Linked DNA regions of Homo sapiens. The protein of the gene in region 2 purifies or fractionates together with the protein of the main gene of each other region. This does not show direct contact. Each region holds a gene or a part of one and is shown on either strand. Other genes may lie near its edges. The genes, in order: EXOC7, EXOC2 and EXOC3.

Region 1 (3,747 bases), on a different chromosome or scaffold from region 2:
TGAAGCATTCCTAAACCGGACTGGAAGTAGTTTCATACAGAGTAGCCTCAAATGCATTGCTGTATCTTCAAAACCCTCTCTAAGGATGAAACTCATTGAATAAGGACTAGAGGCTGGGCGTGATGGTTCATGCCTGTAATACCCAGAATTTGGGAGGCTGAGGCGGGAGGTTAGCTTGAGACTAGGAGTTCAAGACAAGCCTGGACAACACAGTGAGACCCTGTCTACACACACAGACACACACACACACACACACACACACACACACACACACAATTAGCAAGGCGTGGTGGTGTGTGCCTACAGTCCCAGCTGCTAGGAGGCCGAGGCAGGAGGACTGCCTGAGCCCAGGAGTTAGAGACTGCAGTGAGCTACAGTCATGCCACTGCACTCTAGCCTGCACAACACAGCCAGACTCTGCCTCTAAAAAAAAAAATTTAAAAATTAAAATTTTTAGAAAAGGACTAGGACTTTATTATTGTGTGACTAAATGCAAATACAAGTTTGTATTTACTCACTTTGTGCTTTTCCAGTCTCCCCTAGGAATAAAGAAGGAAACTCACTTATTGAGCACCTATTGTATACCAGGCACTGTGCAAGATGCAGTCGCATGCATTAGCGCATATGACCTTCACAGACACACTGGGAGGCTGGCACAGTCTCTGTTTTAGCAGATGAATTCGCTGACACCAGTTACCTATCAGGAGCCGCACATTTAAGCAGAAGGGCAAGGACTAGATCCCAGATCTGCCTGACTTTAGAGCTCTTTCTTTCCCTAAAGTCCTCTGGAGTGAAGGCTGAGTCTTCTCTGCCCTCAGGAATCTCAAAGTGCCAACCTCCTGGGCAGAGAGTCCACTGACAATGACATATGCCCAGTACCTAGCCCAACTGGTCAGACTCACTGAGTGTTTGCAGAAGGAGAGAAGGAAGAATGGCGAGCTTAGACAGAAAGCAGCAAGTCCAGGCCAGTGGGAAGTGCAGCCTCCTCAGTGAGGGTACGGAACATGGGGAGGGGGCTAGGCAGGAGAGATGCCAAACTGTTGCTAGATAAACCCACACACTGCCTCCGTCGCTGCCCATTCCAGAACTCCAGGCCGCAGGAACCGGAACCGCCAGGTCGCAAGGCTCTCCCCCAGGGTCCGGAGGCCTGCCCTCTCCCCCAGCTGCGGGGAGACTCACCATGTTCTTAGTGAGCTGGTCGCTCTTCTCCAGGCTGTCTCGGATGAAGGACAGAGTCTCCTCCTCCTGGGGGCAGGCAAGGGGAGGACATCACCAGAAACCAGAAGCTAAAGGAGACCACTGCGTCCCAACCCCACGGCCTAGCCCCCAACCCCATCTCCTCGCTGGGTGCGCTCCCTCCCACCCCTGCCTCCTCCATGAGTAGACAATCAGGCCCCGCTGTTGGCCCCTTTCCCTCACCTCCTCCCCAGCCTCCCCAGGCCCACGCCCACCTGCTTCAGCTTGTCCTCAATCTCCCGCCGTCGAGCGGATGCCTCCTGTGGGGGAATCATCGCTCTGAACCCCGCGGCTCCCACTCCCCAGTATCTTTCCTCCGCGGGCCCACCGGGCCCCCGTCCCCGTCACACCCACTTCCGCTCTTGGTCCCGCCCCGGGACGCCTGGGCGGAGCCATGTTGGGAATCGCAGGCTGAAGTGCGCCTGCGCGGAGCCCAAGAACGGACCGACGGCCATTTTGAGCGTGGCTGGGAAGAGAAGTGTATTCGGATGCTGCAAGGGACCTCGACGCGGGTTCCTTGCCTCAGCAGAGGTTTTCGATCGGCCTTATGTCCCGCGGCTGGCAGGACACTTAGAGCTCACTTGCTGTTTTCGTTGAAAGACCGACCCTTTTGATAAAGACTGCTGGGGAAGGCGACGAATTCCTTTCCCCAGGTCGCATTCTATGGGCAGGCACCAAGGCCAATTGCGTTTCCCACAAAGCCCCGCACGGAGCAGGTGACACAGTAGATGCCTAACGTGTGTCCATGTAATGAACCAGGGGCTTGTGTACTTGTTTCCGCCTTCCACCCTGCATTACGCAAAAACGTATCCTGTGGGCTGGCGGGGCTGCTCCGGAGCTCCAGGCCCAGACCCAGCGTCCAACTGCAGCTCCAGGGGACGGGGTGGGGGGCGCCCCTGGATCAACTTCCCTGCGGGGCTGGATGTTGTGGTTGCAGACCCAGCTCCTGCAAAACCTCGAGTTACTCCTTCCTCTAACCCGTCCCTGCCCACCCTGCCTCTGGCCCCCAGCCTTGAGAAAGGACAAGGCCGACCAGCTTGGTTCAGTCCTTCTGTGGCCTCAGTGTCCAGACACCCGGAAGATAGACAAGGAGGCATGTGCTGGTAGATGAGAAGGTTTGGGGCGGGCAGGGGGGACACCAAGCTTTTTTTTTCCTTTCTTTTCTTTTGAGAGAGAGTCTCACTCTGTCGCCCAGGCTGGAGTGCAAGTGGCACGATCTTGGCTCATTGCAGTCTCTGCCTCCCGGGTTCAAGTGATTCTCGTGCCTCAGCGTCCCGAGTAGCTGGGATTACAGGCGGCTGCCAACACGCCCGGCTAATTTTTTTGTATTATTAGTAGAGACAGGGTTTCGCCATGTTGCCCAGGCTAGTCTCGAACTCCTGACCTCAAGTGATCCACCCGCCTTGGCCTTCCAAAGTCCTGAGATTACAGGCGTGAGCCCCTGCTCCCGGCCTAAGGAGAGAAGGAGAGAAGGAAGAACCCAAGCTCTAGGGTTCCCAAGCGCTCACTCCACCCATAGTCACCCGAAGAGGAGGAGGAGGAGGAAGTGGGTGCACAGAGCCTGGAGAGGGATGGGCAGCCTTCCCTCAGGCAAGAGGACAATTTCAATCCTGTTGTAGGTGGGGGAGATAAAAGGCTGATTCCTGTGTCAGGAAATACCCAGGATGATTTCGCTGACATGGTCCTTGTGTAGTCCAAAGGGCTAAGTAGGAGAAAGTTTAAACTGTTAGATGTCACAGAATAGAGTAGCGGGGCTAGTTAGCCGCTGTAGAGAGGGTGTTTTGGGCTCAGGTGGACTACCTTTGAGGGCCTGGTCCAGCATTTAACCTGAGTCTCTCTCTCTCTCTCTTTTTTTTTTCTTGAGACGGAGTCTTGCTGTGTTGCCCAGGCTCGAGTGCAATGGCGTGATCTCGCCTCACTGCAACTTCTGCCTCCCGGGTTCAAGCGATTCTCCTGCCTCAGCCTCTCGAGTAGCTGGGATTACAGGCATGGGCCACCACCCTGGCTAATTTTGTATTTTTAGTAGAGATGGGGTTTCTCCATGTTGGTCAGGCTAGTCTTGAACTCCCAACCTCAGTTGATCCGCCCGCCTCGGCCTCCCAAAGTGCTGGGATTACAGGTGTGAGCCACCGTGCTTGGCCTGAGTCTCTAAACAGTTCCTGGCCCATAGTAGATGCTTAATAAAAATACTGATAATAAATATTTTGCTCCGGCCAGGTGTGGTGGCTCATGCCTGTAATCCCAGCACTTTGGGAGGCCGAGGCGGGTGGATCACGAGGTCAGGAGTTCGAGACCAGCCTGGCCAACATAGTGAAACCCCATCTCTACTAAAAATACAAAAATTAGCTGGGTGTGGTGGTGTGCACCTGTAGTCCCAGCTACTCGGGAGGCTGAGGCAGAATTGCTTGAACCCAGGAGGCAAAGGTTGCGGTGAGCCGAGATGGTGCCATTGCACTCCAGCCTGGGCAACAGAGCAAGACTCCATCTCAAGCAAAAAAAAAATTTTGTTTT
Region 2 (3,747 bases):
TCTCCACTTTCATTTAAAGAAGAGTAAATACATTTGTTGTGATTTTAACATTTTCCTCTCTCAGCTTACTTTAAGAATACAGTATATAATACGTATAACATACAAAATACATGTAAGTCAACTGTTTATGTATCAGTAAGGCTTCTGGTCAACAGTAGGCTATTAGTAAAGTCCTGGGAAAGTCAAAAGTTACATGGAAATTTTTGACTGCGTGGGCACCCCTAACCCCAGTGTTGTTCAAGGGTCAACTGTAGTTCAAAATGGCATTCAATACAGGAAATTAAATACTTGACAAGAAAAAAAGATCACTTTCTAAAACTTCCAAGAGTTGGTCCAAGTCACACTGGGGGAACTCTGCTTCTCTGCTTTAATTTATTAAGTTTCTACTTAGACAAACAAGTGAACATGTAAGTACTAAGCACACATCACCCTCTTTCTATTACTACTCTGGGAATCGCCAACTTTTAGCACAAAAAAATCATCTTTGAGAAGATTCTGGCTTTCAGTTGATTTGTCATTAAAGGAGTCAGTTACACAAAGCATGGGCCAGTACATACTAACATTCATAAACAAAACATTATTATGCATTAGAAGACAGATCCACATAAGCTCAGAAGTAACTTTTCAATATTGCATAGTGCACACAAAAAGATTTAATTAAAGTGTGGCTAACTTAGAAAAAATATTTTTTAAGTGTTCCTTGTAAGTTTACTCACAGATTCATAAAGGCATCAGACTTAAAATTTCTCAGACTTATTAGTATGTTGACCTTTGGCAGATTAAAAATAACTTACTTCCATTCAAAGACGAGTTCTTTCAAGAACTATTTCTCGGAATTACTAAAGTGTTTTCTTAACAATCTTGGGATACAGGGTTACGCATCACCAGGCTTCCAGGCTGCTGGTGTGCGGACCTGGAGCCGGCGCGCAAGGTCTCAATGGCAGCTACAACAGGACCTCAGGCTCTTTGCTCAAGCACTCTGAGCCGCCGCTCCCCTATCCGTAAAATGGGTCACACGGCAGCGTACATACACCCGCGCGAGGATCAAGTACGTGCACGCAAACGCTGACAACAGCGGCAGGCGCCTTTTAAGCGCTCAGGACAGCCAGAGCGGGATGCACGCCTAGGCAGACAGGTAACACCCGCCTCGCGTTCACTTTTCCGGAGAAATTCTCAAATCTCACGGAGTGGCAACTGCGCAAGGGCGAAGCGGCGCAGTCTGGGGCCAGCTCCAGCGGGCGGGGCCTGGAGTCAGCCCTCTGCAGCCCACGCCCCTCACCGGCGCAGGTGGGGACCGCGGGGGTGCGAACTGGCGGGGGTGGGCGCGGAGCCCAGCAGGCGGCTGACGGCGGGGATGGGGGCTGCGGGGCTGGGAACCGCGGGGGGTCGCGGGGCCCCGCAGGTGACCGACGGCGCCAGTGGGCGCGGCTGTCCCTTCACCGCTGAGGCCTGGACGGACGCCGCAGGCGGCCACCTCCGTGCAGCTGACGTCCATGTCCCGCTGGCCTTCGGCCAGGCCCTCCAGCCTCCCACACATACCTCCAGCCGTCCTGCCGCAGCTCACGGCCGGCACAGACAGGGCCCGGTAGGTCTCGCCGAAGACTCCGCGGCCGCCAGCCGCCGGCACCTCACTTCCGCCCGCCGCGAGCGCCGAGCGTGTAGATCCGCCTGGCAGTCGAGCGCCGAGTCCTCGATGGGCGGAGCCTTCAGGGGAGGGTAGAGGAGGGGAGGAGACCGGCGCGGGTGCTGGAGGTCAGCAGGGGCCGTGGGCGGTGGACGCTGGAATGCCTTGGGTTCCGAGGGACCCAGCTGCCTGAATGGACACGAGTAGGAGGTTTTTGCTGGGCGTCTTTGCGGTGGCGGGAAGCGGTGAGGGAGGGAAAGAAGGATACAAGCTCAAGGGGCAGGCCGGGTGCACCATCCATCCCCGTGCCCTCGGGTCATCTCAGGGAGACTGTGGGATGATAGTGCGTTTGTGGGCCACAGTTCACAACGATGGGCCCTGCATCGGGTCAGAGGACCCCTCCGGAACAGGGGGATGCACAAGGTCAAGAGAATGCATGGAATCAGAGGGCTGCACCAGGTCAGGGGGGCTGCACCGAGACCAGAGGAAGCATCAGGTCAGGAGGATGCACTGGAGTGTGCATCCCCAGGGGGCCACACTGGGTAAGGAGGATGCACCAGGTTAGGAGGCAGCACTGGGTCAGAAGGATGCACTGGAATCAGGGGACTGTACCAGGTTGGGGGGCGTGCCTCAGGTCAGGAGGAGGCACTGGGGTCCGGGGGCAACATTGAGTCAGGGGCAGCCCTAGGTCAGGAGGATGCATGGGGTCAGGGGGCTGCAGGGGTTTGAGGGCTGCACTGGGTCAGGGCGCCATACCAGGTCAGGGGATGCGCAGGATCGGGGGAGATGCCCGGGGTCGTGGGATGCTGGGGGTTGGGGGGATGCTCGGGGTCGGGGAGTTCTCGAGGTCGGGGGATACTCGGGGTCAGGGGGTTCTCAGGGTTGGGGGGATACTTAGGGTCAGGGGATGCTCTAGGTTGGGGGAAGCTCGGGTTCAGGGGCTATGGCCAGGGAGGAAGGACAATCAGGAAAGTGGGGGTAGCGGATTCTGGAAGCTAAATAGTTTCAGGAAGGAGGAATTGATAGCCAATGTTCAGAAGTACTGTGAGGCCAAGACTCCAGAGACAATTGAGTTTGGCATATGCCAGTCATTGGCATCCTTGACAAAAGCAGTTTCAAAGGAGTGTGGGGAAGCTACATCTCGTCAGAGTGGACTGTGAAAAGAATATTAAGTGAAGTGGAAAAAAGTAAGTTTCAACAACCTAGGTTGGCAGATTTAGCAATAAAAATACAAATACCCAGTAAAGTTTAATTTCAGATAAACAACAAGTAATTTGTAGTATAGATATATTTATCACTAAACTAATGTTGCATGGGATATACTTCTACTAAAACATTGTTTTGAGAGGTGACAGCGTGCTGGCAGCCCTCACAGCCCTCGCTCGCTCTGGGCACCTCCTCGGCCTTGGCACCCACTCTGGCTGTGCTTGAGGAGCCCTTCAGCCCACCGCTGCACTGTGGGAGCCCCTTTCTAGGCTGGCCAAGGCCGGAGCCGGCTCCCTCAGCTTGTGGGGAGGTGTGGAGGGAGAGGCGCTGGTGGGAACCCGGGCTGCGTGCGGCACTTGCGGGCCAGCGCGAGTTCTGGGTGGGCGTGGGCTCAGCGGGCCGGCACTCGGAGCGGCCAGCCAACCCGCCGGCCCTGGGCAGTGAGGGGCTTAGCACCTGGGCCAGCAGCTGCTGTGCTCAATTTCTCCCCGGGCCTTAGCTGCCTTCCCGCGGGGCAGGGCTGGGGACCTGCAGCCTGCAGTGCCTGAGCCAACCCCCCCCGCCATGGGCTTCCGTGCGCCCGAGCCTCCCCGACGAGCGCTGCCCCCTGCTTCACGGCCCCCAGTCCCATCGACCACCCAAGGGCTGAGGAGTGTGGGCGCATGGCTCGGGACTGGCAGGCGGCTCCACCTGCGGCCCCGGTCGGGATCCACTGGGTGAAGCCAGCTGGGTTCCTGAGTCTGGTGGGGACTTGGAGAACCTTTATGTCTAGCCCAGGGATTATAAATACACCAATCGGCACACTGTATCTAGCTCAAGGTTTGTAAACACACCAGTCCGCACCCTGTGTCTAGCTCAGGGTTTGTGAATGCACCAATCGACACTCTGTATCTAGCTACTCTGGTGGGGACTTGGAG
Region 3 (3,747 bases), on a different chromosome or scaffold from region 2:
CTTCCCAAAATGACATGTTAAAGATGGAAATATCTGTGCATGTATACATTTTACCTTTAGTGGCTACATATATTTATCGTATTTATTTGCCCAATTCTCTATTGATGGACATTTAAATTTTTTTCACATTTTGCAATAATGCAACAGTGAATCTGTATAATTCTGATGAAATTCCTTAAAGTTGAATTTTTCAGTCAAAAAGTATACACATTAAAACCAATAAAAGTATACAAATTAAAACTCCAATAAAAGTATACAAATTAAAACTCCAATAGAAGTGTACAAATTAAAACTCCAGTAAAAGTTACAGATTAAAACTACAATGGCTGTATTTCCAAGCTGCCCTCAAAAACCCAACCCAGTTCAGGCCCACACAGAATACAAACAGCCCCTTTTTCCCACACCCTCAACAAGCCTGAACAGCATCCACGTCTCCGGCTCCTGCCATCCTGCTGAGCAGCAGGTCCTGTTGAGCATTCATTGCTTCGAGGATAAGATCGGGCGTCTAGTTTCACGATGAGGACACTGGTGTTGCTTTTAATGTGAGGTGGCCGTTCATGTCTTTTGCCCATTTTTCTATATATTCTTTTTAAATTTTGAAATAATTTCAAATGTAAATATTTTCTTCTTGCTAAGTCATATTTGCGAAAGTTACAAGTGTCTGCCTCTTTGGGGACACTTCCACACACATTTCTGTTCTCTTGCACAACCAGACACTGATGAATCAGCAACCAATCCCACCCCTCATCCCAGGAACCCCTTTCCAGCAGGACCACCAGATGGCCATGGTCTTATTATTTTGTTGTTGTTGTTGTTTTGAAATGGAGTTTGCTCTTGTTGCCCAGGCTGGAGTGCAATGGCGCGATCTCTGCTCACTGCAACCTCCACCTCCCGGGTTCAAGCAATTCTCCTGCCTCAGCCTCCCAAGCAGCTGGGATTACAGGTATGCGCCACCACACCCAGGTAATTTTGTATTTTGAGTAGAGATGGGGTTTCTCCATGTTGGTCAGGCTGGTCTCGAACTCCCAACCTCAGGTGATCCGCCTACCTTGGCCTCCCAAAGTGCTGGGATTAAAGGCGTAAGCCACCACACCCGGCCTACAAGGTCTTATTTTTTAAATATATCCTGATTTCTGCCAATACCTCTAAATAATGTTAAGCCATCTTTATGTTTCTGAAATAACCCCTACATTTCATGGTAGGTTATGCCTTTGATACAATATTAAATTCATTTTATTAATGATTTTTGCGTGTGTACCTATATTCAAAAGCGAAACTGATCTATGTGAGGATGTGTGTGTGTGTGCACTCTCAATTTGACTTTTTGACAGGTCCCTACATATCGGTTTCTATTTTGTAATCCACTAAATTGTCTGATGTCTTTAATACTTACAGGGTGAATCTACTGAATTGTGCGTAAGAAGGACCCTGCATCATACGAAGCAGCGTCACCGAAAACGGAGGCGCTTTAAGCGATCTGACCGGAATGCAAGTGCACAGCCCGGCTCCCCAGACGGCATCCGCACGGTACAGTTCACAGCCTGTGTCCCAGAGGGCAGTGAGGAAGCACTGGGCTTCGGCCCAGAAAACGGCAGGAGGAAAGAGCCAGGCCCACCTCCAGGTCCAGGAAGACCTCCTCCAGCAAACCGCTGCAGCCCTCCTTCGCGATGGCGTCTAAAATCCCGTCCATGCTGGGCTGGCTCGGAGACACACCCTCTTCCACTTCATTCTTTAAATACTTTCTTTTTAAACTGACTATGGATTCCCTGCAAGGAAAGGGTTCAGGTTCAACACAGCGGCTGGGCAGGCCGGCCTCCACCGCTCCCCCGCCACAGCGCCCGGCCACACTCACTTGAAGGTCTGGCAGTTGTTGATGATGGCGATCATGTACTGAACGTAGCAGTGAGGGTGCTGCCGATTCCTCAGGTGCTCTTCTTTATACAGCTGCGCTTCATCTTTATATCTGAGGACAGACAGGCTTCGGTCAGACAGCACTAAGGGCAACATGGAGCTGTTTCAAATGCCACGCTGACGTCACGCCTGGCCTGAAATTTCACATCACTAACATCTGACCGGATGAGCCTCTAAAAATAAAACAATCTTTAGACGATCCAGACTAATGGAAGGACAGAGAGGTTGATTACTTTAAATGGATCAAAAAATAACTTCACCTCAGGCTTTAAAATATGGCTCATTAGGAGGCTGAGGCAGGGAGACCACCTGAGCCCAGGAGTTAAAGGCTGCTGGCTGCGCTGCAGTGAGCTACCCGTCGGGGTAACCTAATCAGACCTTGTCTCTTTTTTTTTTTTTGAGATAGAGTCTTGCTCTGTCACCCAGGCTGGAGTGCAGTGGTGAGACCTTGGCTCACTGCAACCTCCACCTCCTGGGTTCAAGTGATTCTCCTGCCTCAGCCTCCTGAGCAGGTGGGACTACAGGTGTGCCCCACCATGCCCAGCTAATTTTTGTATTTTTAGTAGAGACAGGGTTTCACCACATTGGCCAGGCTGGTCTCGAACTCCTGACCTCATGATCCACCCGCCTCAGCCTCCCAAAGTGCTGGGATTACAGGCGTAAGCCACCGTGCCTGACCGACCTTGTTTCTTAAAAACAATTAAAAAATATAAAAATTTTGAGGAGTTGGTAAAAAATAATAACTGAAAAAAGGAAAAAAAATATGGTTCAGCATTCTGATTGTAAAAATATACTACATAGTTGATTGTGAGGAATTGGGAAAGCATTATCTTATTTTATTTATTTTATTTACTATACACTTCACCTAGAAACTCATAGTGTTAGGAACCTCATCAAATGTCAGGTAAAATGTCCCTTTCAGAAACTGTCCCTGAAATCATCCAATTAAAAACAGACACTTGAAATGTCAAGAAAACAAACAGAGGTAGTGACACGCTCTATTTTTAAACTTACTGTGGGGATGCTCAAGCACCTATGGGAGTGGAAGAATCATACAACAAATACCGTTTCTATTTTTAAGAGATGTTAAGAAAGGAGCACACTGAAAGCTGGCAATTAAAGGGAAAGAAGTTAGCATTTCTGTCCAAAGTGTGGTTCAGGTCATCAAAAAGCTGAGGGTGATCAAGGAACGGTCTCTTTATAGAAGAATCTAACCTCATAAATGACAATGACCTCCAAAGAAACAAACTCAGGCCAAGATCCCCATGGACAGATGGCCAATAGGGATTTGGCCATGCCTCTGTGGATAGAAGGCCAATGGGGACTTGGCTAAGACTTGGCCAGTGGGGACTTGGCTAAGACCTCTATGGATAGAGGGCCAATGGGAACTTGGCTAAGACTTGGCCAGTGGGGACTCGGCTAAGACCTCTATGGAAGAGGGCCAGTGGGGACTCAGCTGTGACCCCTGTGGATGGGCGGCCAGTGGGGACTTGGGCATTACCCCTATCGATGGATGGCAAATGGGAACTCTGAGTGGGCGGCGTGGCTGTAGTACCTAAGCCACCAGGACAGGACCTATGGACGCCATGTCTCCTGATGTGCCACATCGTGGAAGGCACACTCACCAATAAGTGGGATCCAAGCCTGCAGAGCCAGCATCTGGCTCGGGAGCTGACAGTAGACTGAGGAGGAGGCTGAGGGACATCTCTCTACAGAGATCTACAAGCCAGCAGCTGAAGGAGGGAAGGGGCTATTCGGCTTACCAGAGGCCTAGGAACCCTAAGCCCTCATGCGATGCAGTCCAATCTGATTCACAACTATCAAAAGACACACTTG

The links.
Region 1: the proteins of EXOC2 (region 2) and EXOC7 fractionate together in Homo sapiens (co-fractionation; 4 studies listed by BioGRID, with this or other methods). This does not show direct contact.
Region 3: the proteins of EXOC2 (region 2) and EXOC3 purify together in Homo sapiens (affinity purification with mass spectrometry; 7 studies listed by BioGRID and IntAct, with this or other methods). This does not show direct contact.

What each region holds. Positions count from the first base shown.
Region 1 is NC_000017.11:76,102,182-76,105,928, forward strand, and holds the start of EXOC7 (exocyst complex component 7), read right to left. Parts: upstream 1,607-3,747; 5' UTR 1,512-1,606; coding exon 1,452-1,511; intron 1,391-1,451; exon of another isoform or gene 1,246-1,390; coding exon 1,180-1,245; intron 1-1,179. UniProt on the Homo sapiens protein: Component of the exocyst complex involved in the docking of exocytic vesicles with fusion sites on the plasma membrane.
Region 2 is NC_000006.12:691,480-695,226, forward strand, and holds the start of EXOC2 (exocyst complex component 2), read right to left. Parts: upstream 1,661-3,747; 5' UTR 1,540-1,660; exon of another isoform or gene 795-1,539; intron 1-794. UniProt on the Homo sapiens protein: Component of the exocyst complex involved in the docking of exocytic vesicles with fusion sites on the plasma membrane.
Region 3 is NC_000005.10:460,176-463,922, reverse strand, and holds part of EXOC3 (exocyst complex component 3), read right to left. Parts: intron 1,964-3,747; coding exon 1,853-1,963; intron 1,767-1,852; coding exon 1,616-1,766; intron 1-1,615. UniProt on the Homo sapiens protein: Component of the exocyst complex involved in the docking of exocytic vesicles with fusion sites on the plasma membrane.